5 separate regions of the Homo sapiens genome follow, and regions 1, 2, 3 and 5 are each linked to region 4. Evidence: fine-mapped expression QTL. A gene starts in region 4. Each other region holds a variant in brackets. All regions are shown on one strand. Distances are from middle to middle.

Region 1 (4,000 bases), 150 kb after region 4:
TTACTGGATCTTTACGTCGTTGGAATTTTTTATCTTACAAATGTTTTTACAGTGTATGCTAGTATGCATGTTGTTATCCATATTTCAAATTATTTACTTGATGTATATCATTAGGAGTGAGATTGCCGATCAAAAGGCATGCATATTTTTGAAGGCTCGTGACTCCTATGGTCAGTTGGCCCCTAGAAAAGTGCCCGTGTTCAGCACCGGCTTCAGCATGAGTCGGGGGGCTGAGATTATTGTGGGGGCTGGTTGCAGGGTCTGGCGAGTTCAGTTTGTATTGGCTGTTGGCTTTGTTGAAGTAGTCCTCTGGAAGACTTACAGACAAATGCCCTCATTTCCATCTCTTTCTCAGGAGGAGGCAACATGGCAAGAGCAGGAAGCCCCTCGGAGAGACACTCCCACCGAAAGTTCTTGCGCAGTGGCCGCCATTGGCACCCTGGAAGGCAGCCCCCCAGGTATCTCCACCTCCTTCTTTAGGAAGGTGCTGGGCTGGCCCCTCAGGCTGCCGAGGGACCTGTGTAACTGGATGCAGGGACTCCTGCAAGCTGCTGGCCTCCATATCAGGGACAATGCTTACAACTACTGCTACATGTACGAGCTCCTGAGCCTGGGGCTGCCACTCCTCTGGGCGTTCTCTGAGGTCCTGGCAGCCATGTACAGGGAATCTGAGGGCTCCCTCGAGAGCATCTGCAACTGGGTGCTCAGGTGCTTCCCAGTCAAGCTCCGCTGACATGGCTGGCTGCCCCAAAGTGCCTTCACATTTCCAGGGAGGCTTCAGATGGCAGTGCGTTTGCAGTTTGCTCAGGCTCTGGCCAGGAAGCCTAGCATTCTCTAAGCAATTAGCTCAAAGCCAAAGAATTTCACATGGGCCACCTCCGCCTGGCCTTATCAGGGTGAACATCTACTCACGGTGCTAGGGCCAGGGATGATATGAAGGATCTTTTCTATAGCTTTGTGAGCCATACTTCTGGGTTTACATTTCAATTTTTTTAATTTTAATTAGCCCAGAGAAAGCATTTTTTTCTATGAGTGTCAATTTTTCTAAACATGGGTTTGAAGCTTATAACCAGTTTTATAAACCCCTTGAACACTGCAGTGAGTTATCAAAGCCACTGCCTGCAAAGTGGATGATTTAAGATTTTACACGCATGAAAATGAGTGTGCCATCTCCTGACCAGTGCCTTTTGACTTAGGTACCCAGATGCCACTTGTCAGCAGCAGGATACTTTTTACAACACGAAAGCATAATTATTTTAGAAGAAGAGAGTAGAAGGGCAGAATAGAATTCAACTTACAGAAGCACGGAGCAGTGTGTGGTTGGCTGTTATCTGTCCCCCTGGGAGGAGGACTGTTTTGCTCCCTTGTTTTGATGTTAAACAGTAGCTTAAAGGCTTTCCCCCCCATACCAACTCACAGCCAAATGACAAAGAACCGTGGGGTTTCAACAGATTCTACAAACATGCATTTTCCCTTCCCACTAATGGGCACTGCAGGGAAAGCCCATTGGCATTTGACCATGGAGCTGATGCAGTGCCAAAGATGAGCTCTTTCAACTGATGGCATTTTAGCCCCTGTGGCTCCCAGCGGATCCCCCAGCCCGGGCTGCAGGCTGAGCCAAGGCTGTGCAGGGTCCATATTGGTCAGGCCAAGTGGAGTGGAAGACTCTGTCCACTTATGTGGTGTCCTTTGGGACTGAGGGGGTTTGTTAGCACATCAGGCTATTGCTGGGAAGCGTGGCCTGCCCAGTGAGCATTGCCTGTGGACATCCTGACTGCTTAGCTGCTCCGCTGCCACACATATGTGGTCAAAACAGAAACCAATTTCACACTGCCCTGGGAAAGGAATGGGTCTGACCTCCAGGGGAAGCTCTACCATATCTTGACTGGCAGGGAAGGCTGGGAGTGGAAGCTATTTATGG[A/G]CTGATCCAAAGGACATATGCATGAGTAAGGGTAAAAATGAGCATGCAGGTCCACCTGTGTTCTTACTCTGGGTATCTAGAAGAGTCCTCAGCTCTCCCTACTCCACGCTGCCTAGACATACACAGCTGCAGGGTCTGGCTGAACAATCAAGGGGCCGCCAGAGAAAGGCCATCTACGGTGCGCAGTGTATCTGGAGTTGCTGGGCCCAAGATAGCTCTGTGGAGTTATCACTAGAGATGCCTCTGGATTAACTAAGAGGTGTGCCTGGGTGTGGGTGAGGAGTCAGAACCTTTGAGAGCTTTGAGATGACAGTTTCTATGGGGCGGGAAGAAGGAGGTGCATTTCTACAAACACTTCCCTGAAATCCTTGGGAAAAACAGAGGCATGGCCGTGGCCAACTCTGTGGGAACTGGCGCCTCTGTCCTTGTTGGCACTGTTCTCAGTCCGATGACTTGCATTGTGTTTTCTCCAATTTTTGCTGGGATTTTAATGTTCAGCATGGTGGGAGGAACCCTTGATTCCTTTTGTTTGAGTATAGAAAGTAAATTTTTGAGGTCATGATGTGAACGGCCATGTTATTGTGATTATCTTCAGCTCAGGATAGGCTGAGATGCTTTGTGGAGTGTTCCATGAAGCCCGAGTCGGAATCTCTGACTGTCGTGTACAGCCATAAGGAGACTGGTTTGAATTACTGTGGCGAGACAGGGCGTGCCTGTCAGAAATCTGAGATGTTTGTACGCTCTGAGATGTTGAACCTTTCTGGTGGGCAGCACCGACACCCAGGGGTGGACCCCCGAGGATGAATGCCTCTAGGCCTCCGCAACATATTCAAGAATGAATGGGAGACGCTAGAGTAAAATGGGGGCAGAGAGGATATCAGGGAGCAAGATGCAAACTGTGTGCATCCACTCTCGTAAACAAGTAGCTGGTCACAACCAGAAAGGTTCATCTCTCCTAAGCAAACAGCGACTCTTTCAGAGGAAGTTTCCCTCTTTCAATCGTGGCCTTATTTTCAACTCCGGTGCCTTCTCGTGATGTTAATCATTTCCTTTTTTCCCCACACTAAGCTCTCTTTTCTATCTTTCTCTCTCTTTCCAATCTTACGCCATGGCCATCAGTTCATTTCAGCCTTCCAGTGCTACACCCACTTCTTGGCTGACACACTTCTGCTCTAAGGTGACTGGTTTTCTTGCCAATTTTCAAAGAGTGGTACTAACCCCCAACCCGCTTTCCGCACCCCGTCCTCTCCGCCAGCAGTACTGGTTGCACTAACTGTGAGTGTCTTGCATACTGATGGACTCATTTGGTGGCATGGTTGGCTAACAGCATGGCGGGGGGTGTTCAGCTTGAGACCCATGCCTGTGTTCATTTCCCATGGAGCTGGCAGCCTGGTCTACCCCAAGTGCATGCCCCGCCTCTCCTCTCTCCCTTGGGTCTGCCTGCGTGCATGCTTCTCCAGTTGCGTCTGCGAAGCTACCTACTTTCTTGGGAGGGTCGACCTTGATCATGAAACAATACCATGAGGGGGCCTCTGTCACCTTTGAAAAGAACACTTTTTGAGCAGCCTCAAAAAGCTCATACATACCAGCGCCTTCTTAAATTGGCTCTAATGTAAAGATTGTTAATGTCATTTATCAAAACCATAGGTGATTATTTGGAGGGATTTAAAAAACTTAATTACTCTCAGGCCTCATCCCAAGCTTGACACATGCTCTGTAGGTTGAACACATAATCACAAATATTCTAGCAAATGCTGCCTTGGTTGCAGCCTGCACTGTAGACCCAAGGGTTTTGCTGTGGCTCTTCTTATCTCCCTTGGCTCATAAAGCCCCAGATGATGCCAGAGCTTCAATTAGAGCCATCATCATCCCAGGCAGGGATATCTTTGAGAAATGACTCAGTTCAGCCCCAGGCCCCTGTGACTCTGCTTAAAGCACACATTTCTGCTGACTCTTGTACCTGGGGCAGCAGGATAATCACCAACACACTCTTAACGAGAAACAACACACCAAGCACCGTGGAGCTGTCCTAGGCAACACTCGCGGTCTCAGGCTGCGGTGGGCGTCTGTCCTGCATGT
Region 2 (6,544 bases), 28 kb after region 4:
CTACTTTATGCAAGACACATTCTAAGCTCTTTACCTGCATAACTCATTTAATCTTCACAGTCAACCCATTTTACATACCAGGAAACTGAGGTAGAGAGAGGTTAAGCAATTTGCCCAAAGTCACATAGCTAGTTAGGAGGAGAGCTGGAAGTGAACCCAAGCAGAGGGCTCCAGAAGTGCCGTTACCCACCCACTCTGATGCAGACAATAACAGACATCACCTCCAAGCACCTGCTCTGAGCAAGCAATGGGCTAAGTCCTTTATAGGATTATCTCATTTAATCTTCAGAGAAGCCCTATGAAGTGGGTGCTAACATCATCCACATTTTAAAAAAAGAAATTGAGGCTCACAGAGATGATGTGATTTGCCTAGGGCCACCCAACTAATTTAAAGTGACAGAGCTGGGATAGGACCCTTGGTTTGACTGATCATAGGGCCCAAGTTCTTAACTGCCTCACTGGGTAGCCTGCACATTTAGACACTTCTCTTGCTCTGTCTGCAGCTCCCCTGGTTTGGCTCAGCACCTGAGTCTTTGTCCACAGTCTGGGGAGGGGCTGGGATGTGGAGACCCCTACCTGCTGCATGCTGCTGAGGGGTCGGCTGTGAGGTTTGAGCTGGTCTCGATCTATCTCACACCGACCTACACCAGATGGTTCTTGAACAAGTCTTTAGTGCATTGAAACTCTGAGTTTATTCATTTCTTCATTCAACAAATATTTACTGAGGGCCTGGAGGCTCCAGGCCCTGTCCAAGTGCTGGGGTCCCTCAGGGAAGAGCTTAGACTCTGAAAACATCCAAGAGGAAGGCTCCCGGAGTTCCTGTCACTTGGGCCTGTCATGTCCCACTCAATCTCACAGGAAACCTTCCCTGTATCACCCAAATCAGGCCCATGAGGGACCAGAGACCTCGTGCTTCTTTGCTTGGCACTGGCCTGATGGCAAGTCCAAGGAGAGACAGCATTTCTTCATTCTGGTTGATTACAAAGGAAAATATAGTGTCAGGGAGTGAGCATGGGCGTGGACTCAGGCCAGCTCCATCGGGAGTCCCAGAGCTGCTGTGGTCTCTGCTAATCGAGACTTTGGGTGAAGCACTTCGCTGTGCCATGCCTCAGTTTCCCCCTCTGTAATGATACCGTACTACCTGTCTTACAGGGTTGCTGGGAGGATTAGCTGAGGTAGCAGTGTTAACTACCCAAGGCAATACCTGTACACAGGTTAATCCCTCCCTCTTATAACAACTAAGTAGTTTTGTCGGTGTCTCTAAAAGTCAGGGTACCTGGAGGGGGGCAGCTGAATGGGGTCCTAGGTGAGGAAATCACCAATTGTATCAAGCTCCTCATTTTATGGATGAGGGAACAGAGGCCCTGACCCTCAAAGGCCAGAAGGTATTGGGCTCTAGGACCTTCTAATTTGTTGGTGTTACAGGGAGCTCAAGTGTATTTGGCTTGTTGGTCAGACAAAGGGTACGAGTTGGTCCTTTGAGTGGCTGGACACAGTGTGCCCAGGCCTCTGTGAGCATCTGACCAGTGGTCAGCCCTTGTAGCCTGGTCCAGTCATACCTGCCTCCAACCCACCATGAAGACAGCCTAAGCTGAACCTTAAAGAGCCCCGTGTCCCTGCTGCTGGTCTCCGTAATGCCCTAGGGTGGGTAGGGACTTCTGTTCCTGAGATCTAGAGAGCATGGCGGGGTCCCTGGCTTCTGAAACTCTGGTTGGACCAATGATGGAATTCTGTACCAGGATGTCCAGCTCCCCACCCACAGATCCCAGAAGCTTCCCTTGAGAAGCAGGGGGCAGACAAGTCAAGGCCTCTAGCCGCTTTGACTTCTGGCTGGAAGCAGCAGCACCGAGCCTGCAGCACAGGCTGATAGAATGTGGCCCAGGCAGGCCAGCCTGTTTGTCAGCTGGCACAAGCCCCGAGGGGTGTGGGCTTGGTAATGATGATGACGGGCGGGCAGGGCTGCCGCTTCTGCCCAGGTGGCCGCCCTTGGAGCTCGCCAGGCTCGCCCGGTGTGTGGGCCCACCAGGACTAAATCAGAGTTGATGTCCAGTACACCTTTCCCTCAGCTTGGTGGGAAAGACCATGAGCACAGGGGCAGCCAGTCCTGGGCTCCAATCCTGCCTTGCTGTAGGGGCTTGGCAAGTGCCATCTGTTCTGTAAGCCTCTGTTTGCTGTCTGTGAGGAGCCACTGAGATCAAGCAGGTCTAGTCTCCACCCATGACAGTACACAGCACTTCATAGGCTGTCTCCCATTAACGGGCTGAGAATTCTGAACAGTGAGTCCCATCTCCCAGCACTCTAACAATGTGTGCTCTTTGTGTGCTAGAGAGAGAGAGTGTGTGTGTGTGTGAGTGTGTGTGTGGGGGGCACCACTCTGTTGAACAAAGTGTGCGTATACCTCCCTGGAGTATGAATATTGCCTCTTATAGATGTCAAATTTCACACCTGTGTTAGTTTTTGTCCCTTTGAGGTTACCTCTTAAATATTTTGATTTATTTTTTAATGTGGAAGTAAATCATTAGAAATATTTTGTAACTCTGGGCTTCGTTTTCCAAACAGGTGTAGAGGCATTTTCTGCAGAAGCAATAGGATGTCATGAAATAATGTGGGTCGTCACTGGAAGCCAAGAGAAAAATTAGTTTAGGAAACTCAGCCATGATCAGCTGGTGCACTTTCATAACTCCCTAGTTTACTCAGTGTTAGAAAATGGGACCCGTTTCACACTGGGGACTTGTTATCCAGTTTTACACCTGCTTGATTTACTTTCATTGTGTCTCACACTTAAAAATTCTGACACTTTCTGTTTTTACTAAAGCAGCGAATAAAGCATTGTTTTCCGGATCCCTCCTACTCCTCAGCAAAGTCTTTGTGTAGAGATCTGATAAGCCCTTAGGGTGCCCTGACTGCAGCCAACAATAGAATTTGTTTAGCCATCTTGCTATTCCTTTCTTCACGTGCAAAACTTGTTGGAGGCCAGGGAGAGATTCTCTGTCCATTTCCTCTTGCTGGGTGAAGTGTCCCACAAGGCAGAGTGCACAAGCATGCGTGACCTCTTGGAGGAGACTAGAAAGGAGGCATAAGCTACGATGATGTCACTGACATTAATTGTTGGGCTCTTGTTTTTAAAGGAACATGGCAACCCGTGTGTGTCTCATCCCAGAAAGAGAAGACTTTAACCACTGTGA[T/C]GCCTGAGAATCCAGTGAGTAAGTCACAGTGGTGGATCTTGTTTACCGTGGAGTAGCTCCTGGGGGCTGGTCCTAGGCTTAGGAAAGTGTGGGATGTTCCCACCATCCTGGGGCAGCTTGCTGTGCCCAGGGCGCGCTGTTCCCTCTGAGTCAGCACCACCTCCTCTGCACTCCCCTAGCGCTGTGTTCTTGCCTCAGATACACCACTGAGTTAGGGTTTGTTCACCTGCTTGTCCCACCTACCGGCTGTGGGAGCCTCAAGGGCAAGGAACCAGACTCCCGCCTTCCTGTCTGAGCCAGGCAGCAATTCCCGGCAGGCACAGTACAAGGCACATCACAGGTGACCAACAGCTGTTTGTGGACTCAAGGAGTCTCATCCCTGAGGTTTGATCAGGGCTTTTATGGTCCACAAAGCTTCATCACAAACAGTGTCCTATGGGAACCTTTGTGCCCTGGGTGGGGTGGTCACATTATCCTTGTTTATTTTATAGACATGGAGGCTGGGGTCTGAGGAGTCAGATAGCCTGCCACAGGTGGTGGTAGGCTAATAAGTGCCCAGGACTCACGTTTTCTGTGTCCCAGGCTAGCCTGGTTTCTGTAACCTTATAATTAGAAAGGTTGTTTAGAGTAAACCCCTCATTGCCAAACAGGGAGACTGAGGCCTGGCCTGAAGATTCTTTCTCAAGGTGACAGGGCTCACTGGTGTCCAATGGAGAATGGAAACGCAGGCCCTGGACTTCCTGTCTGGCGTTTTGGCACCCCTCCTCCCTCCTCCTCTGCCCTGCTCCTGTATTCAGCAATCAGAGAACATTTTGGGACCATATATCTGTGTTTACAGGAGGGTGAAGAACTTACAGAAAGCCATGAGTCAGAGGGAACATAGGGATGAATAAAACCCTCCCTTCTCTCCGGGAGCTTTCCTGGACATGTGAGCCTTGGCAGGGCGTTGAAGAGGCTCAGTTTAGTTGTGGGAGGAGGGAGGATGAAGGTGAGGGTGAGGGGAGAGCATCAGGGCCCAATCCAAGATGCTGGGGCATGGGCGGAGGCTCCGGCGGAGGGGCAGCCGGCGTGCATGTCAGGGCATTTGGCAGCTGGCCTGGTGGGCGCTGAGGGATCACGTGGGGTGAGGAGTCCACGGGAGTCCTGAATGGCAGGATGACAAGGGGTTGACTGGACCTCAGGGAAAGCTGCTCCAGGAATTCTCATTCTTAGTATCTGGGGAAAGACCCAGGCAAAGAGCTGATTGGCCAGTCTGCCACAGCCTGAGAAACTGTCCCCTCTCTGGAGAAACAGAATACAGAGTTTGTCCACAGAGGAGGGTCAGGCAATGAACAGTGAATTCCAATGTTGTCTGAAATGTGTAGGGAGGGGAGTGTGAGCAATTCTGGCTGGCTCAATCCTATTGCCCTCAAATGAATTTTTGTTTTGTTCTGTTTCTGTTGAACACACGTGCTGTTCTTCTCTCTTCCCTTTGGAATCTTGGGTCCCTCCTGGCTCATCCATTCAATCCAGGCTTGACCCAGGGCCAGGTGGGTCCTGGCTACTCTTCTGTGTTTATTCTACCTTTTCTTGCAACTTCCTGGACTTGAGGACTGGGACTGACTGCCAGTTTCATCTCCATTGGCAGGGTGAAACATAAAATTTCCCCAAATTACAGAGAATGTGATGCTTGCCAAATAGGTACCTTGGATTATTTTCCAAAGCATTCCCAAATTATATACTTCTCTAGGGCAGGGGAAGTGTATCATGTTGTATCATTATTATTTACACTTCATATTTCTTTGCACTTTATGTTTTATAAAGGTCATTTCATCTTCATGATCAAGCAGGTGGACTTCTCCCATTTTACAGATGAGAAATTTGCCTTAGGCAGGCGGTAGCCTGCCCAAGGCAATGCAGCTGTCTAAGGGCTGAGCTGGGACATGGCCCAGTCCTACTGTTTATAAATTCCATGTCTCTCCTCTGCTAAACTCCAACCATAGTAAATCTCTGGAGGGCCTGAGACCTAAGAGGAGCTCAATAAACACTTGTGGAATGAGTGAACTTTGGCTCTTTTTTTTTTTTTTTTTGGCCACTCTCAACCATAAGTGGACCCTCTTTGGCAGCAAAGAGAACACTACCCTGTGGAATATTTGAGTTTCTTGCCATGATAAGGAACTGGTGAGCTCTCTTCTCACCCAGCCATACCTCTGGGAACTAGGTCATGCACACTGAATAATTAATTCCTTGACTTTTACTCGGAGCTTCCTCCTCCTGACATTGAGATGCTACGTTAGACATTGATCTATGAGAGGTCCTTGGGAGAAGCAGATCCTACTGTTTGTTGTCACAGACCTTCAGTGACCCATCTAATTGCCCATGAATAATACCTGTGGCCTAAACAGGTCAGCCTTCCAGGCAGTTCACTCATCTCCTCCTTCTACCCTTCCCCCACCAACCTTCTCTAGACTGAGGAAGAAGGACAGGTGTGTATTATCTTAGATATGCAGGGTTCTGTACAGTTAGGGGAGCCTACCTCTTCCTTCTCACTGACCTCTGAACTTTTCCATATGTTGTGGCAAGGGCTGGAGAAACAACAAGAAAACCATGTCAAGATGGGAAAGAATTCATGGGCTCCGGGAGGCAGTTATCAAAATATCCGCTGGGTCTGCTCTTTCCCTAAGTGATACTTGGGTCATCTTTCTTCGAGTCTGCAAGGGATCCAGCTGGCCTTGTTAGACTCTTGAGGTCAACAGAATAGAGTAGAAATAAGAGTGGGCTGAGACCAAGAGAGCCATGTTCTAGTGTTGACTGTCCACAGCTTAGCTATGTGGCCTTGGGCGAGTCACAGAACCTCAGGGGCCTTCAGATTTCTTATTCAGGAATTCAGGGAGGGGTGGAGGTTTGGTGGTATCTTAAAGAAGTCTCCTTGACTTCTGTGGTCCTGGTCCTCAGTGTCTCTCTCAGTTTGTCCTTGTGATTAGCACTGTCTTCTCCTCCAGGTCACCTCCTCCTCATGTGGTCAGAGCTTGCTTCTGTAAGCACTTTCATCCTGATCTTTGTAGCTTTGCCATCTCTCCCCTGCGCCACCCTGAGTTATGCCAGAGTGCAGATAAGAACTTCCTGTTGTTGCCCTACTCTTCTGCCAAGCAGCATGGGAGAAAACTCTAACCTTGTGAGACTCTTAGAGATCTAAGGAGTGAAAGTTGGTTGGTATCAGAGGAAAATGGGATTAAAGGTTGTTGGGATTTTCAAGTCCTTGATGCCCCAGGGTACCTGGATTGTACTGAATTTTTGATCAGAGGGTAGTCAATATGTTCTTAAGAATATGGCCCCAAGTTGGCCAACCCTTGTGATCAGGGGTGACCAGACACTTTGGA
Region 3 (6,544 bases), 60 kb before region 4:
GCCTAGAGGCCTGGGCTCTGGAATGCTCCCGTTTCCAGACTCAGCTGCCTCCCCTGCCTCTTCCCCAGGGCTGCCAGTAAAGTGCCTTTTCCCTGCAGGAAAAAGAGCTGCCCCAGTTGGGCCTGGAAAAAGGGCAGGCATTCCCTCACTTGGCTGGCCAGGGGGGCTGGAAGTCTTTGACAGCCCTGCGGTCAGTCCCAGGGCCAAGTCCTTGTCCCCTCCTGGCAAATTTATGCGCACCTGAACTCTGCAGGATGCCCAGGAGGGGGCGCCAAAGTGCTGCCAAAAAAGAACAGTTTGGGGCATATGAATCAGATGGCCTCGTGGGAGTGCTTAGTGAGGGCTGGCTCTGAGTTCTTTTTACCCCAGCCCCTGCCCAGGGCCAGGCACTGTGTGTGGAATGGAGGAAAGGACACCATGCAAGAACTGACAAGGTCCTGCACATCTCCTATGCTGGCATTTCTTACGATCACAATGACTTTGGTGTTCCAGGCCCAGAGGCTGGGAGCTGGCAGGAAGCTTGACCATTGTGAAGAGCTAGTGTGCCTAAAGTGGCCTACAGATTTGTTGAGGGAGGCTAGGTGGGGTCAGGAAGGCAGGACCCCTTGAGCCAGTTGCCTCTGGCAGCAAACAGTCTCATTATTGCGTAATTAGTATTTTCTATGTTGACTTGACATGGACGTGGTTGGGAAGCACTATCCAATATGGAAGCCACTAGCTACATGTGACCACAGTACTTACGTTTTAATTAAGATTAAATAAGCAGGCTGGGGGGTGGTAGCTCATACCTATAATCCCAGCACTTTGGGAGGCTGAGGTGGGCAGATCTCTTGACCCCAGGAGTCTGAGACCAGGCTGGGCAACTTGTTGAAACCTGTCTCTACCAAAATACTTAGCCGGGCATGGTGGTGCATACCTATAGTCCTAGCTACTTGGGAGGCTGAGGTGGGAGAATCACCTGAGCCCAGGAAGTTGAGGCTACGATGAGCCAAGATCACGCCACTGCACTCCAGCCTGGGTGACAGAGCAAGACCCTGTCTCAAATAAATAAACAAATTAAGATAAAATAAAATTTAAAATCCAGTTCTTTACTTCATTAGCCACATTTCAAGTACTCGATGGCCACATGTGGCCAGTGGCTCTCATGTCAGCACAGAAATAAACATTTCCATCATTGAAAGTTCTGTTGGACAGTGCCACCCTAGAACTTGCTCTGATCTCTTGTGGGTAGGGTGTGCTTTAGAATTTCAGAGAGTTCACTGTTAGCATGCTGCCTCCCATGGATATGGTTGTTACAAGGTTATGAGAAAGGCAGTCAGACCCACCTAGGATTAACCCCTGATTTTGCTGGTTACAAGCAAAGTGTCCTCTATGCAAGGGCTCTGCAGGGCTGACACGGGACTTGAGCATCCGCAGACTTTGGTATTCAAGGGGATCAGGCAACCAAACCCCCACAGTTAGCAAGAGACAACTGGACTACTTTTGTGGCTTCAGAGAAGTCACTTAATCTCTTTCAATCTCTGTTTTCTCATCTCTAAACTGGGGATAATATCACCCTGCCGCCACAGTTATTATTAGATGAGCTAAGACAGATAAATCACAAAACGCAGTGCCTAGGACACAGTTTTGCGGCCTTACCGCCCCAGCCGAGTGTGCCTTTCTGCGTGCACTCACCCACAAGCCCTCATCCCCTGGCTATACTGTGTCCAGACCTGTGTCGGGTTCCACATCTCGTTCAAAGGCAGCACCGGGCTTGATTCTTGCACCGGGCTTGATTCTTGCCTAGAAGGAGATTGCAATCTAGGTCAGAAGGCAAGATAAGGCCCATGAAGCAACCTGAAAACAATTCTTAGGCAACACACAGGGCAGTGTGTCATCCCGTGAGCCAGAGTCTGATGGGAAAGTAGTGTGGGGTGGGAGGCTCTTCTAAGTCCTCGTAGAGAAAGTGGGTGAGATTAGAACTGGTCTTGAAACAGCGTAGAGTTTGGACCGGCAGAGCCAATGAGAGAGAAGTGGCAGCAGGGAATGGTGTGAGGGCAGAGGAACAGCGTGAGCAAAGAAATGCTCAGAGGTGGGTAAGGGAGGGGCCAGAGCTAACACAGTATGGGGCAGCTTGGCCGAGGTGCTCAGGAAGGGGACACACTTCCTGAGAAGAGAATTTGCTAAGAAGATACTCAGATCTTGGAAGCCAGGCTGAGTTGCTTAAGTTTAATGAGACAGGTGGTCATCAGGCAGGCGGGGCCTTGAGCATGGAAACTGGCAAGGCCTGGGGAGGATTGCACTGACAGCAGAAGTCGGAGGTCTGTGAGGGAGATCCTGCAGTCAGGGTGACGTCAGCGAGAAGTGACACCAGCGGCCTTCCGGGGCAGTGCATGGTACCATTTACAGAGCGCTGTTAACATAGCCTGGGCTCAAATTGCTGGGTCCTAACACAGTAACCAAAAACTGGACTCCATTGGTCTACACAACAAGTCAACATCAAATTGGGAAGGAGCAGTGGGTAGGCACCAAGAAGAAACAGAGCAGAGGAAATGCCTGTCACAGTGTGTCAAGATCTGAGCCCCAGCCCCTTAATCAGTTAAGAAAAAGAACAGGGGCCGGGTGCGGTGGCTCGCGCCTATAATCCCAGCACTTTGAGAGGCCAAGGCGGGCAGATCACGATGTCAGGAGTTCAAGACCAGCCTGGCCAACACAGTGAAACCCTGTCTGTACTAAAAATACAAAAAATTAGCTGGGCCTGTAATCCCAGCTACTTGGGAGGCTGAGGGAGGAGAATCACTTGAACCTGGGAGGCGGAGGTTGCAGTGAGCCAAGATCGCGTCACTGCACTCCAGCCTGGGTGACAGTGCGAGACTCTGTGTCAAAAAAAAAAAAAAAGAAAAAAGAAAAAGAACAGGTACAAGGAGGAGAAGAAGGGGGTGTCTAGAAAGAGGACTGGGTGTCTGAGAAACAGGGCTGGGTGTCACATCACACACATACACAGGCACACACAGTCACATTCACATGCCTGTACACATAAACACATATAAGGACACACATATAAGCCCCCCAACTTACTCTTCATGCTAATCATACCCAGAGACCCTTAAGGATACATGCAAATGCATATGTACGGGCACACATCAATACGTATGTGTATATACACGTGTTCTTCCTCAGCCCAGCCTCTCCTTTTAGGCCTGGAGCTGGGGCTGACATTGGGTTTACATCAATCAAAGCCACTAGGAAACGTCTATCCTGCCTGGGCCCAGAGTCCATTTCTGACAGAGGCTTCTCCAGGCTTTACTTGTAAACGCTATTTATTTTGGAAAGCAACTTCTCTGTTTTCAAATAAAACGTTGGGACATGCAGTATTGGATTTCCCTGATCTGACATTGAC[C/G]TAGAAAAATGTGCTGGCAGGAACAGAAAATGCGATGCCCCACTGTGCTGGCAGGCACAAGAGTTTCCCTCCTCTTGGCTTTGATTGCAAAGGTTAAGATGCAAGTGAGAGAGCGCAGTTCCCCCTCCCTGCCTGAGCAGCACTCTCCCTGCAGAGCTGGAGGGAACTGGGGGCCATGTTTAGGGGCTTCCTGCAGGTTTTGGTGCTTGTGGTCTTAGGGGCATGCTTCTGGGTGGGGAGCTTATCACAGAGGGGCAGCTTGTCACAGGGCTGGTGGCCGAGGCCAGCATGTAGAGAGCAAACAGCTCCAGGATGTGCAAAATATGAATAGGGCCCAGCTATGGGGGTCCCCACGGTTGTCATCAGTGAAAAGGGCAAAGCAACTTGAGCTCTGGGTGAGGTTTGAAGCCAGTTCCTGTCCCTTGGGGAAGAGGTTTCCTGGAGGCAGACCTGCCAGGTCCAGCTTCAGGTGAAGGTCATGGCCTGCTGCCATCTGCAGCGGCCTGGGCACCAGTTGCAACGGTTAGGGGCAGAAGCTGGGAGCAAGGGCTGAGGCAGGAGCCCCACATCATGGTGGGAACCCAGACACCTGTGGTCTGCTTGCGGGGGTGGGCCCTGGTCTAATTAGCAAAGGAGGCTCAAAAAGCAATACACAATTCATTGCCCCAGCTGAGCCACAGAATCTCTCAGAGTTCCTCAGCTGCTCCAGTGACTTAATTCTGTGCCTGTTAATTCTGTTCCTATTCCACCCACATCCCTTATGGCCTCTCTGAGGATGAAATGAGATCAGAAATGTAACATGCTCAGCCAGGGCCGGATGCATAATAGGTAGGCTCGGTAAACGTGAGAGCAAATCCCAGCTTCACCACTCACTAGCTGTGGCGCCTTGGGCGAGCTCCTCCTTGGTGCCTTAATTTCCTCATCTGTAGAATGCAGATAATAACAAAATGTACGTCATAGAACTGTTGGGGATTAAATGAGTAAATATTTGTAAAGCACTTTGAACAGTGCCTGGCACTTAGTAAGCGTGATAGCTGTTTGCTATAATATTAAATTTACTCTTTTTGTGTGTGACAGGGTCTCACCCCGTGCAATGGTGTGATCATAGCTCACTACAGCCTCTACCTCCCAGGCTCAAGCGATCCTTCTACCTCAGCCTCCCAGATAGCTGGGACTAGAGGTGCACCCCACCACACCCGGCTAATTTTTTATTTTTTATTTTTTGTAGAGACTGGGAGTCTCATTATGTTGCCTAGGCTGGCCTCGAACTCCTGGGTTCAAACAGTCCTCCCACCGTGGTTTCCCGAAGGTCTGAGATTATAAGAGTGAGTCACTGTACCCAGCCTTAAATAGTATTCCTAATGGTTATTCATGTATTTATTCATGAATTTATTCAACACGTCTTTCTTGAGGGCCCACTATGAACCAGGCACTGTTCCAGTCACTGGGGCTATAGCAGGGAACAAGAGACACTAGCCCTGTGGTAGGTATAATGATCCTCCCTGCCCCCAAAGACGTCCATGCCCTAATCCCTGCAATCCTGACTATGTGATGTTACGTGGCAAGAGAGACTTAAGGTTGCAGGTGGAATTAAGGTGCTCATCAGCTGACTGGGAGAGAGGGAGGGTGCCTTGGATTATCCAGGTGGGCCTAACGTAATCACAAGGGTTCTTAGAAGAGGGAGGCAGGAGAGTCAGAGAAGGAGGTGCGAGGATGGACACGGGGTTCTAAGTGATGTGATTCCTGGCTTCTTCCAAGATGGAGGAAGAGGCCACGACCCAAGGAAAGCAAGCGGCCTGTAGAAGCTGGAGAAAGCAAGGAACTGGAGTCCCCTCTGTAGGCTCCAGAAAGGAACACAGCACTGCCCTTGATTTGAGCACAGTCAGGTTTCTGACCTGCAGAACTGTAAGATAATACATTTCTGTGTTTTAAGCCACTAAGTTTGGTTTGCGGGGACTCGTTATAGCAGCAATGGGAAACAAATACCAACCCTTCCTCATGGAGCTCATATTTTTATAGGGGGAGCACAACAATAAAATCAACAAAATGCAGTGTGTGCAGCAGGCAGCAGCAGTCGAGCTGGCCCTTGCAAGTTGGCCATCCCGCTAGCCGTGGCCGCCCCCACTCCTAGTGTCCCTCTGTTTACCCATGGCTGAAGGGCGGGGGCTGCTCTGCCCATTGGCTTCCAGGCTCTGGCTGGACACACACTGCTAGATCTCGCTGGCTCCTGGGCTGGGGAGGGGCAGGTGCGTGGTGTCTAGCCCAGGAGTGGGTGGGACCTGCTGCCAAACTCTGGGGCAATTAGCATGTTCCTAGATTCCTGTGGGCGAGGAGATGAGAAATCGTGATTTGTCAAGGCCGGTTGGGAGTGAAAGCCAAAGCCAGGAGGCCGCCTCTGAGTCTCCCGGGTTTCTGTAATTATAATTACTTGATTGGGCATAATAAGGTGCATCCGAATCTTCCCATTAGGAGGCCATAAAACAGCACTTGGGCTTTCATCTTGCCCAGCTGCTTACTGAAACCTCCCTCTTTTATCTTCAATGCCTTTAATTGACAGGTCTGAGCCCAGGGAGCTACTTCTGGAGATGCTGTGGTCTGGGGTGGATCCTGCCTTCTCAGCCCCTGCCTGTTGAAGTCACTGAAGTCTCTGCTGCATCTCCGGGCTTCTGCTGAGCAGGGCTGGAAGGTCTTGCTTGAGGAGCTGAAGCCCACCAGCAGGTGGGGTTTGCCACTCAGGTGTAGCTCATAGACCTTGAAAGGATGGTGCCTTGTGGCCCATGTTCAGGAAGTCAGGTTGAGCACTGCTCAAGGGCACCTACATCTAAGGGTTATCATCAACATGGTAGACATGCTAATTTACATGAGCACACTGGACGGGAGATTGACTAGGCCTCCAGGCAGGTAGCTGGGGAGAGCACCCTTTGGCCTAAATTCACAGTGGCACTTGGGGGTGTGCACAAACTCTGCACACCTGTGCGCCTCTGTCCCATCTGCACTCCAACTGCTTGATACCCTTTAAGGCCTGATTCCAAGACCTCCAAGACTGAATCTGTCATGATTGCCTCACCTGGAGGGGCTGTGGGGGGTGGGGAGGGTGGCACTCAGTGTGTGTGTGCATGCTGCTGCCATGAGTGGGCCGTGGTGTGTGTGGACACAGCCAGGGCT
Region 4 (6,544 bases):
CAGATGCACACCACAATGCCCAGCTAATTTTTGTATTTTTAGTAGAGATGGGGTTTCACCATGTTGGCCAGGCTGGTCTCAAACTCCTAGCCTCAGGTGATCCACCTGCTTCGGCCTCCCAAACTGTTGGGATTATAGGCATGAGCCACTGTACCCGGCCTCTTTTTCTTTTCTTTATCTTCCTTTCTTCCTTATTCTTTCTACCCTCCCTCCTTCCCTCCTTCTCTCCCTCCCTCCCTCCCTTCCTTCTTCTTTTTTCTCTCTCTCTCTTTCTTTTTTCTATTTTTGAGACAGAGTCTTGCTCTGTCGCCCAGGTTGGAGTGCAGTGGTGTGATCTCGGTTCACTGTAACCTCCACCTCCTGGGTTCAAGAATTCTCTGGCCTCAGCCTCCCAAGTAACTGGGATTACAGGCGTGTGCCACCACACCCAGCTAATTTTTGTATTTTTGGTAGAGACGGAGTTTCACCATGTTGGCCATGCTGGTCTTGAACTCCTGACCTCAAGTGATCCACCCACCTCAGCTTTCCAAAGTGCTGGGATTACAGGCATGAGCCACCATGCCTGGCCTCTTCTTTTCTTTCATCTGCTAGGTAAGGGATTCGATAAATATTCCTCTAAAGTTTGCCCTAACTTTAGATCTTTCATTTGAAGAGCTGAGCTGTATAACTCCTAGACATAGTCACAGCCCAGCAGGACATCCCATGGTGACTGCTTAGTCCAGAGGAAGGTGAGTTGTGACATCCTTAACCCATTCCTCTTCTCTCTCCAGGAAGATGGTCAGCAAGGGTGGCTTGTGTGAGGTGGTGAGTGGCTCTGGCCACTGGCTCAAGAAGTCCCCAGGTTTATCTCCCTCCATGCAGTTAACCCTTCTCAGTTCCCAGGTTGCCCTGCGTCCAAGGAAAAGCTCACCTCTCAGCCCTCAGATGCACCCACCTAGCAAGAGTCTTTCTTATCTGAGCCCCCTGAGTTAAAAAGATTGGGAGTAGGGTAGGGGAGAGGAGGCAGAGGTTCTGGGAATGCATTGGTAAGTTCTAATTTTTAAGTTGCTTGAACTTCTGTGCTGAGCAATGCTATCTTTGTTAAACTTGGTTGGCCCACAGTGCTCCTGAAATAGCATTAAGCTTGTTTTAATCTGAAGGGAGAATGTTGTGCTATTGGTAAGGTGATAAAACTGTAAAAAAAAAAAAAAGAGTAATAAAGAATACAGCTCCCAAAGCACTGTGGTCTTCTTCTTCTTCTTCCTCTTCTTCCTTTTTTTTTTTTTTTTGAGATGGAGTCTCGCTGTACGAGCAATTCTCCTGCCTCAGCCCCCTGAGTAGCTGGGATTATAGGCATGTGCCATGATGCCCAGATGATTTTTTGTGTTTTTTAGTAGAAACGGGGTTTCACCATATTGGCCAGGCTGGTCTTGAACTCCTGACCTCAGGTGATCTGCCCACCTCAGCCTCCCAAGTGCTGGGATTACAGGCCTGAGCCACCATGTCTGGACAGCATTGTGTACTTCTGATTATTCATCTGTTGCATTATAAGTTACATGAGTGCAGGAACCACATTTGGTTCGGAGTAGGGTTTGTTAAATGAATGAATGACTCTGTCTCCATCTCTATCCACCACATGGGTGTCTCAGGTCCAGGCCAATAGCAAGAGGCTTTATGTCCAGTGTAGTTAAGGTGGGGACAGATGTAACACTGCTTCCTGAAGCTCCTCACTGCCTTGGGTTTCCTGTATCACTCTTCTAAATAAGGTAGGGCCAGGCCAGTGGAGTCTCCTCTCCCTTACAGTGCCCTGGCCTGAGCTTGACAGACTGTTTGGATGGACTGGGAGTGGGTCAGGCCTAGAGCAGCTCTTTCAGGGTTAGACTTGACCTGTCAAGTACCCTAGAGGCATGGGCAGTGCTGTAGAGGCCCCAGCACATAGTGTTTAGGCATGTAGATTCTGGAACCAGATCTGGCTCAAATCCGGACTCTGATACTTACTAACCATGTGATGTTGACCAGTTGCTTTACCTCACTGGTCTCAGTTTCCACATCTGTGAAATGGGATGATGATACAATACATACCTGTCAAGCCAGGCTTAGATGAGATCACGTGTGAAGGGCACTCCCCAGGCTGGCATCACAGGCAGATTTCCATCAGAGTGGAGTGCTGGCCCTCTGAGAGTACAAGCTGACTGGGCCTTGCAAACTGGGTAGGAACAGCTTTTGCTGGAAAGTTCATCTACAGGAAGTTGATTGAATTCTGAAGAGAGAGCTAAGAGAGCTGCCAGGTAGGACAATACCTGGTAAACACCAAAGGGCTGAGAGTAGGATCACATGGCAAGAAGTAGAGTAGAGAAAAAATAATAATAATCTGCAGGTTTGGGGAGGCAAACTGTTCTGTTTGCACTTGTCTGGCAAGGGAACATGGTGTCTCCTGGAGGTGGTCTTGTGCTGGGGAAATTCCAGCAGCCTGGAGCCACAATACTGTTTCTCACTGCTCAAGCCTGCCTGTTTTCCTCTGCCTAGGTAGCTCAGTTCCAAGAACACTTATTGATGCTTACACCGGGCCAAGCCCTGTGATGGGCCCTGGGTTCCAGAGGTGAGTCAGACATGGTTCCTGCCCATGGAGATCCCCATTTCATGATAACTGCTACAAGAGCCGTTTAAACACAAGGTGTTTTACAGTAGTTATAGTCTACAGAGTGCTTCTGATTGCTCACTAGGCCCCACTCCATTCACACTGTGTTGTCTGTGAATGTTGCTCTCTGGAGCTGTGGGGGGTAAGGGTAACCCGGGAAGGTGGGCAGAGCAGAGATTAAGATAGGGATATGACAGCCAAAGGTAGAGGGTGTTTAGGTGATCTGACCAAGGTAACACAGGTAGTCTGCACCACCGCCCCCTTCCCACTAGCTTTAGCCAAGCAAGGCCAGGTGAGGGGAAGATCCTATTAGCTAGCAAGGAGGTTTGCGGAAGCTCAGGGTGGTCAAGGAGCCGAGCAAAGAGGGAGGTCCACAGGACGTACACAGTCGGTACTAGAAGTGCCATGCTGCTCCCCCATGTCCAAAAGGGGATGCCGTGTCTTGCTTTCCAGCCGCCTAGACCAAGAAGCGTGAGGCCCAGGCCCTCGCCGCTCCCTTGATACCCGCTTACCAACACCGGGGGTTTCATCTCGCAGCGCCACCACGCCCCACTCCCAGCAGCCCTCCCCTGGTCTCCGCCCTGTGCGGGTCAGGGTGGGAGCGCCCGGCCACTCCCTGCGTTCTGGGCCGGGCTACAGCCCACGTGCGCCGGCGGCAGCGGCGGTGACAGCCGGCCCCACGGGGGCGGGGCGGGCTCCGTGCTGTCCTGTCATTGGCCGCGCCGCTGTCGGGGGCGTTCCCCAGCCCGGTCCACCGCGCGGCGCAGAACCGCAGGCGCTCGGCTGGCTAAGCCTGCGCCGGGCCGCCTCGCTCGCTCCCAGCTCTGTCAGTGGCCCGCGGGGCCCGATCGCTGCGCCCGCGGCCAGGGCCGAGGCAGGCCTGACCCGGGGCCGGGCAGCCCGCGCGACTTTCGGTAAGGCGGGGGCGGCGCTGGCCTCAGGGTGGGGAGGGCGGGCGGGCGCGGGTGGGGACCGTGCCAGCCTCGGCTGGACTCTGCGCCGTGTCCAACGCCCGGGAGGGTCAGGTGCGGCCGCAGCATCCCCCGCCTCAAACCCACCCGGCGGGGCGCACAGTGAGCAGGTGGCGCTGCGACGAAGCCCGGGGCGGCCCTGGCCGGCCTCTGAACCAATTAGAACGCAATAAAAGCCTCCCACCGGCACGCCGAACTACCTCTTACTCCGCTCCGCAACACCCAAACCCTGCAGTTCCAAGCCTAGAAAATCGCAAGCGCCAAAACGGGGTGGGAGTGACGCGCCTGCAGTGCTGCCTGTCACCTGGCAGAAGACCATCCCCAAACTTCCCAGGATTGGGGCTCCGAGCCTTGCACGCCCCGTTCCAGCTCTTCACTGGGCGCCCTTTTCCCCCTCCCCTGTCCCCTCCCTCTTTAGTAACAGGAAGTTAAGTTGGGCCAAATGTCAGTGGCCTGGCTGGCCGCGGGCTGGAGCCCAGTCGGGATGGGGTCGTGGCAGTGGTCCGAGGGGCCGCGGCACTGTCCGCTCTGCATCGCGTCTCCCGCATCCCCAGTAGCCCGCTCTCGCTCCAGGCCCAGGAGCACCCCCGCAGGGTGTCCGCGGCACCCACCCTGTAGGTGCCTGGCTGGCCCCGGGGAGAGGTGGGATCTTGCCCACAGCGTCTAAGCCGCTGCCGGGCCAGACGGGGCAGGTGGGGTAAATTGTATTCACCGCCAGCCTCACTGGCAGAGCTGGGAACGGCCTTTACTGGATGGGGATGAGGGGATGTGGAAACCAGAGTAGTGTGCCTCCTTCCACATTGTTTATTCTGAGGCCTGGGTTCTTAAAGCGGAAAGAGCTTTTATTTGGAAGCCTGTAGGGCCCCGCCAGGCCTACAGCAGTGTGCCGGCTCTCTTGCTGTGATTGTCGCCTGTTAACTACAGTCTACAATGATTTTGGTGAAGGATGAAGTCACCAGCCAGGCCCCTTGTGGGCTGGTCCCACGGGAGAAAAGCCAGAGGCGAATTGGCCCTCCAGTGTTTGTGCCAGGTTCCCTGACACCTGCACTTACTCTGTCCTGCTCCCCCTCCCCAGTGGCAGTCGACCCAACAAGTGGGCCTCCGGTCTCCAGGGTAGTCCTGTGCAATGCCCTGGAGACTCTAATACCGTAAGAACTCACTTTCTTCATGCAGAGAGAAGACGGACTTATTAAGTGCCTACTGGGCAACAGGTCCTGTCTTGTGGCACTTTTGCAGCCAATTTCATGGTTATTCCAAAAACGCTGAGAGTTTTGCCCTCCCCATTTTAGAGATGGGGAAAGAGGCTCAGGTATGGTAGGTGCCCAAGGTCACACAACAAGTGTCTGAGCCAGGTCCTGGCCCTGTCAGTGTGAGTCCAGTGCTCTTGTTTCATGGCTGTGGGAAGTGGTGTGCTGTGTGCAGGACCATGGCCCCACAGCGTGCTGACTAGAGCCTTCCAGCCTCTGAAAAGATGCTCTCCACCAGGATTTCAGGGGATGCTTCTTTGGCAAAACAGTTGAAGTGACCCAGGTTAGCCAAGTTGTTCAACCTGCAAACCCCTTATCCTCCCCCTAGTCAAGAGTAGTGGATAGTGTTGGCCAGATTGCTATGGGGAGGGATTGGGTGCTATTTTGGAAGGAAGCCTGCTTCTACCATTGACCTGGCCTCACCTCTGAGAAGCTGGCTTCTGGTATAGTCTAGGAGGACTGTGTTAGCTGAAATAACCTCTACCTTAGGACTGATTCTAGTTTCGTGGGGCTTTTGGGGGTGGGGGGGCAGGTGTTGGGGTGTAGTGTTATGGTTGTGGGGTAATTGAAATCCAGTTTGAACATACCTCTATAAAAACATGACATCACTTTTATCTCCAGCCCCTTCTTCCTTTAGGCCTAGGGCTCTGGCTTTCTGCTCATCCCCTCTTTCAAAAGAAAATCATGATAAGTCATGATTTTCATGACTTATTTTCATGATGTCATGAAAATCATGAAAACTGATACCAATCCATTATACTTTAGTATAAATCAGCTTTTAAGAACTATGCCTGGTTGTGGCTGTGGCCATTGGAGGCCCATTCCCAGGCTGCAAGGAGCAGCCATATGATCCCAGATTCCTTCTCTGCCTATAATTGGGGTATGTTTCTGTTCTCTCCACCCACACCTGGGTTTGCCTCCCAGCCATGGGCCTGCCCCCTTTGCTTCCCACTGCTGAAGTATAGAGGTCTTGTCTTCTTGGTGGAAGCCTTGGCTCTGGCAGGACGGGACGTGGTAAGGGTAAAAGAATAACTTGGTTAAACATTGCTGATCCTAGATGTCCTCTGAGGGCTAACAGTCTCTATTCTTTAAAGAGTCAGAGAAGAGAATACTGTTCATCATGCTGAGATGTTTCATTCTTTACATCATTCTATTGTTTCATTCTGCCTCTAAAGAAGTGGGGTTAACTGCATTTTACAGGTGAGGAAGCTGAGACCCAGAAAGGTTACAACTTGGCCGGGTGTGGTGGCTCATGCCTGTAAAACCAGCACTTTGGAGGCTGAGGTAGGAGGATCATGTGAGGCCAGGAGTTCAAGGCCACCTTGGGCAACGTAGCAAGACTGCTGTCTTTAGTAACAACAACAACAAAAAAGGTTACAACTTGCCTGCATCACACAGCATGTATGAGTGCAGTTTGAGTGTGGAGAATTAAATGCTATGGGAAGCAGGAAAAGCCTGTGGCTGTCTCTGCACTCTGGAGGCTTGGCAGGCACAGCTCCTCTGCTGCGCAGTCATCTCCCTTATCCGCGGTTTCACCTTTCGAGGTTTCGGTTACAGTCAGCCATGGTCTGAAAATATTATAGTATTTTGAGAGAGACGGAGACCACATTTACATCGCTTTTATTATAGTATATTGTTATAATTGTTCTATTTTATCATTAATGTTGTAATCTCTTAAGGTACCTCATTTGTAAAGAAAACTTAATCGC
Region 5 (4,000 bases), 87 kb after region 4:
GGGTCCTAAGGCCTAGCCACATCCTGTGATTCTGACTTCTGAGTGCCACAGGCAGACATGAAACGATGTGAGCTACGAGTGAGTGACATGATCTGACTTGAGGAGGACTGCTCTGGTTGCTGTATGGGGACAGACTGCAAAGTGACAAGGGTGGAAGCTGGGAGACCAGATAGGAGCCCTGATATCAGTTCAAAGGAGAGATGGCCATGACTTGGATAAGGAGGCAGCGTGTGAGCCGGTGAAAATTGATTGGATTCTATATCTGTTCTGAAGATAGTAAACAAGATTTATTGGTGGATTGGTTGTGAGGTAAGAGGAGAAGAACCAAGACTGATTCCAGATTTTTGGTCTAAGCAAGTAGAAAAGTAGGTAGCACTTACCAAGACCATGTTGATGGGGGAGAAGCAGGTTTTTGCAGGGAGGGAATAAGAGTTCAGTTGTAGATCTGTTATGTGAGTAATGCGTATTGAAGCAGATAGAAATGTCAGTGCACAGTTGGCTGGATTCCGTGGGATATTCAGGGTTGAGCACCATCAACATGTAGATGGTAATTAAAGTCATGGAAGTAGATGGTGTCAGGGTCAATAAGGGAAGGGTATAAAGGCTGAGCCCCAGGCACTTCCAGGTATAGAGGACAGGAAGATGAGGAGGAGCAGCAAGGGTGCCTGAGCAACTGCAGGGCAGGAGAGAGTCAAGAAAGTAGGTCAACTGTTTCAAAGGCTGCCCTGACTGCCTCTCTACCTCTAGTTTCTTTTCTCTCTTCTTACCATCTTTGTTATTGCTCTGGAACCAATTGTCCTAAAGTAGCACCTCCATCCTATTCTAAGCTCATAAAATCCAAAGGGGAGGAATAAAGTCCAAACTCTTCAGTCTGCCATCCAAGTCCCTCCACGATCTGGCTCTTTCTTTCTCTTTCTCTCTTTCTTTCTCTACTCTCCTGGTTTCACCTTCCCCACCAACCCCTGACCCTCACTTCACTGGCCACTGCCCTGCAAACCACCTCCCTCTTTCTCAGCATGCCATTTGTTTTCTTTCTGCAAATCTTCAGCCTCAATTCTCCATTCATGGTCTATCTCCTGGAGGGATCCTTTCTTGACTGAAGTCACTAATCTGTTTCTTCTCTAAATTCCTAAAGTAGTCAGAGGTAATACCAAACAATCCAGCATTCATTGTATCTGTTTTTCTTCTTCTCTAGTTCCCAGCCAATTTCCTGAGGTTTGGGAACATGAGCCTGTAATCCCCAGAGCCATCTCACCAGTCCTTTACATATCTTAGATGCTCTGCCACATAACACTTATGGAAACCTGGAAGGATTAATATAGGATTGGGATTTTGAGTATGGGCTCAGAGGCTAGGTTCTTCCCCTGGTTCTATTACCATGGCCAAGTCATTTAACCTTCCTGAGCTCCAGTTTTCCTATCTGCCAAATGGCTATGAACATGCCTAATTCAGGGTGATTGTAAGAACGATGCAGGATGCATTTCTTATAGTATGCTTAGCACACTTCATGTACATTATAAGCAGGCAATAAGCGGTAGCTTTGTTTTCATTATTGCTATTATTAATACTATTATTATTCTTGGTCTTCCCAACAGAGATGCACAGGCAACAACAAAGATGGGACTGTGTTGACCTGTTCACTCCATACTTTCAGATCTCAAGTGAGGTGTTCGACTCTGCTGCTGGCAGGGGTACAGGGGTGGCCCTCACACCCTGACTTCGGGGAACCTATGTGTTAAATGGGGAGATGCCATGAGACCCAACCGCTACCCAGAGAG[G/T]TACAAGCCCTGAGGATTGTGCTTAGAACTTCTAAACTAGGCAGCAGTGTGAACGAACTTCTGAGGCCAAAAGGCAGAATGTCTGCGAATAAAACTGTCCCTGAAAATCCAGACCCTGCAGCTACTGGTTACAGTTGGTCATGGAGGAGGAGAGCACTGGCTCAGGATGGAAGGGAAGAACAGAGAGAAACGGAATGTTTCTCAGAGGAATTAGTTGGTTTTTTTAGGGAACGTACAAAGCATAGGATACCTTTTTCCATTTTATTTCTGTAAATTTCTAAGATTGATAAGTGGTGTGTAATTGTTACTCAGGAATAACTGGATACAGAAGAGAGTCTGGAGATGTCAGGGCCATGTCAAGTCAGATGAGATGTAACTCCTTTCCCAGAGCAGCACTTGAAGTTCCCCTGGGGAGCCCCTACTGGCCAACCCCCTCTCAGAGATTCCTCCACAGCTAGAACCTCAGGTGATTTTGAGCATGTACCCTGGAATCAGAGGTTAGGTTTTCACCCTGGTTCTGTTACCACGGCTATGTCATTTAACCTTCCTGAGCTCCAGTTTCCTATGTGCCAAATGATGATGAATATGCCTAATTCAGGGTTACTGTAAGAATCAAGTGAGATGCATTTCTTAAAACATGCTTAGCACAGTTCTTGTACATTATAAGCAGGCAGTAAGTGTTAACCCCATCTCTCATGAGTAAACCCCAGCACTGCCCTGCAGGGGTGAGGCTGTGCAGCCAGGTCCCTATTGCAAGCCCTCCCCCAACACACACATTCTGGCAGGTGGGTGGCACCTTGAATTTGAAAACTCTCCATCCTGCGATTCTGAACCAAGCTGTTCTTATTCACGGTAAACCAGTAACAGCCAGGGGCTTCCTGCCTGGATTCAGATAAGTGGCTGGTACTGAGAGCCAGGGAGGCTGCAGAGCCACACCAGGAAGTATGGTGGCACGTCCCTGGCACCAGTGCACTGCCCTGGGGAGCTGGCCTGCAGGTCAGTGTGCTGGGAGGACTGCGGCTACCAGGAAGACAGCACCATGCATGACCTCCCCCATGCCCAGCTTGCTGCCAGGGCCACCCTCACCAAAGGAGGCTTGCACTATCCAAGCCCAAACTCCCACTGTGGTGGCACCTGCCAGTGTGACTTGCACAGGCTCAAGCTCTGTCCAGCCTATGATTTCCCACCCTGCGGAAGCACATGAAGCTCAGGCTGGACCTGGCTTGCTCGTTCCTTGCAGAGCCCCTGTGAACCCAGCCTGAACCCCAGCTCCTTTCAGGAGGCCACAGTGTGCTCAATGCAGGGAAGGAGCCAAGTCCTCTCACTTCATCCTGACCTCACCACTGAGGTCGGGCTTCACTGTCAGTCAAGCCGGTAAGAGCATAGACTTTAGACCAATAGTACCTGGGTTAAAATCCAGATCTGACAGCTTATTTGTTATGTGACTTTAAAGACATTTCTTACCCTCTTTACTCAAAAAGAGAGTTAATAAGAGTGCCTGGAGCAAGTTGCTTAACTTTTCAGTGCCTTAGTTACCTCACTTATAAAGTGGGGATGATCATAACACTTTCATAGGGTAGTTGCAAGGATGAAACACACAAAGCAAATAGGACAGTGCCTGGCAAATAGAATGTGCCAGGCACCGTGCAGTTAGGTCTCACAACTGTCCTTTCTAGGTGAGGTGCAGGGTGGGTAAGCCAGCTGGAGAACGCCACACCCTGGTCAAGTGCTAGCTTCTGCACTCGACCTCGCTGCAGTGTCTGCACACACAGCTCTCAAGGAACACAAGGGCAGGATTCGGAAGTGGAAATGAAACCTGCAGACTGCTAACCCCTGGCTTAGCACTTGGTCCCCTCGGCATCTCCCTCTGGGGACTGAATCTCTTATGCATTCCTGACTGCCCCAGCACACTTGCCCACTTGTAGGCTGGTGAGAGGGGCGGCTGGAAGATGCACCATGTCAAGAAGTGGGTTGTGTTTGCAGGTTCCCCTGGGGAGGAGCAGAAGTCACACGTGAGCTGGGGCCGCCCAGTCCTTGTGTCCTGACTGTGGGCTAGTTGGTCACCATCCCCCCATCCTGACCCTTGATAAAGAGCTGATTTTTCCATGAGGCGTTTGTCTCTCCTCTGTGCTAACGTGGAGGCCTGAACACCGCCGAGCTTATCTATACAATGGATTTCCTGCAGGTGTTGGTTCTGCCCTGCTCCCCACTGGGTAATAATT

Direction of the effects. Alleles are on the strand shown, and positions count from the first base shown. SD is a standard deviation of normalised expression in the study named. Not every link is listed here.
With allele C in place of G in region 3, the expression in cerebellar hemisphere of the gene that starts at base 3,395 in region 4 is higher (moderate effect, 0.60 SD a copy in GTEx).

Evidence for each region.
Region 1: its variant is fine-mapped to the expression of MICAL2 in whole blood (INTERVAL, PIP 0.98).
Region 2: its variant is fine-mapped to the expression of MICAL2 in whole blood (TOPMed, PIP above 0.99).
Region 3: its variant is fine-mapped to the expression of MICAL2 in cerebellar hemisphere (GTEx, PIP above 0.99). The same link has a PIP of 0.9 or more in cerebellum.
Region 5: its variant is fine-mapped to the expression of MICAL2 in memory regulatory T cells (Schmiedel 2018, PIP 0.95). The same link has a PIP of 0.9 or more in T cells.

Annotation. Positions count from the first base shown.
Region 1 is chr11:12,259,440-12,263,439 of GRCh38, forward strand. MICAL2 (microtubule associated monooxygenase, calponin and LIM domain containing 2) reads left to right here. Exons shown (of 28, transcript NM_001282663.2): 26 at 356-458; 27 at 3,041-3,098. The coding sequence ends at 3,081. Among named protein-coding and RNA genes, the nearest start is that of MIR6124, 98 kb to the left of the region's middle. The variant A/G (reference allele first, on the strand shown) is at 1,922.
Region 2 is chr11:12,135,262-12,141,805 of GRCh38, forward strand. It overlaps MICAL2 (microtubule associated monooxygenase, calponin and LIM domain containing 2), which reads left to right. Exons shown (of 28, transcript NM_001282663.2): 2 at 3,129-3,199. Among named protein-coding and RNA genes, the nearest start is that of MIR6124, 25 kb to the right of the region's middle. RefSeq lists enhancers at 1,422-1,922, 3,653-4,196, 4,197-4,738. The variant T/C (reference allele first, on the strand shown) is at 3,186.
Region 3 is chr11:12,047,287-12,053,830 of GRCh38, forward strand. The region is part of intron 1 of LINC02547 (long intergenic non-protein coding RNA 2547); the gene reads left to right. Among named protein-coding and RNA genes, the nearest start is that of LINC02547, 20 kb to the left of the region's middle. The variant C/G (reference allele first, on the strand shown) is at 3,380.
Region 4 is chr11:12,107,196-12,113,739 of GRCh38, forward strand. MICAL2 (microtubule associated monooxygenase, calponin and LIM domain containing 2) reads left to right here and starts at 3,395. Exons shown (of 28, transcript NM_001282663.2): 1 at 3,395-3,531. RefSeq lists a silencer at 3,089-3,758 and an enhancer at 3,301-4,004.
Region 5 is chr11:12,195,892-12,199,891 of GRCh38, forward strand. All of the region lies in intron 3 of MICAL2 (microtubule associated monooxygenase, calponin and LIM domain containing 2), which reads left to right. Among named protein-coding and RNA genes, the nearest start is that of MIR6124, 34 kb to the left of the region's middle. The variant G/T (reference allele first, on the strand shown) is at 1,779.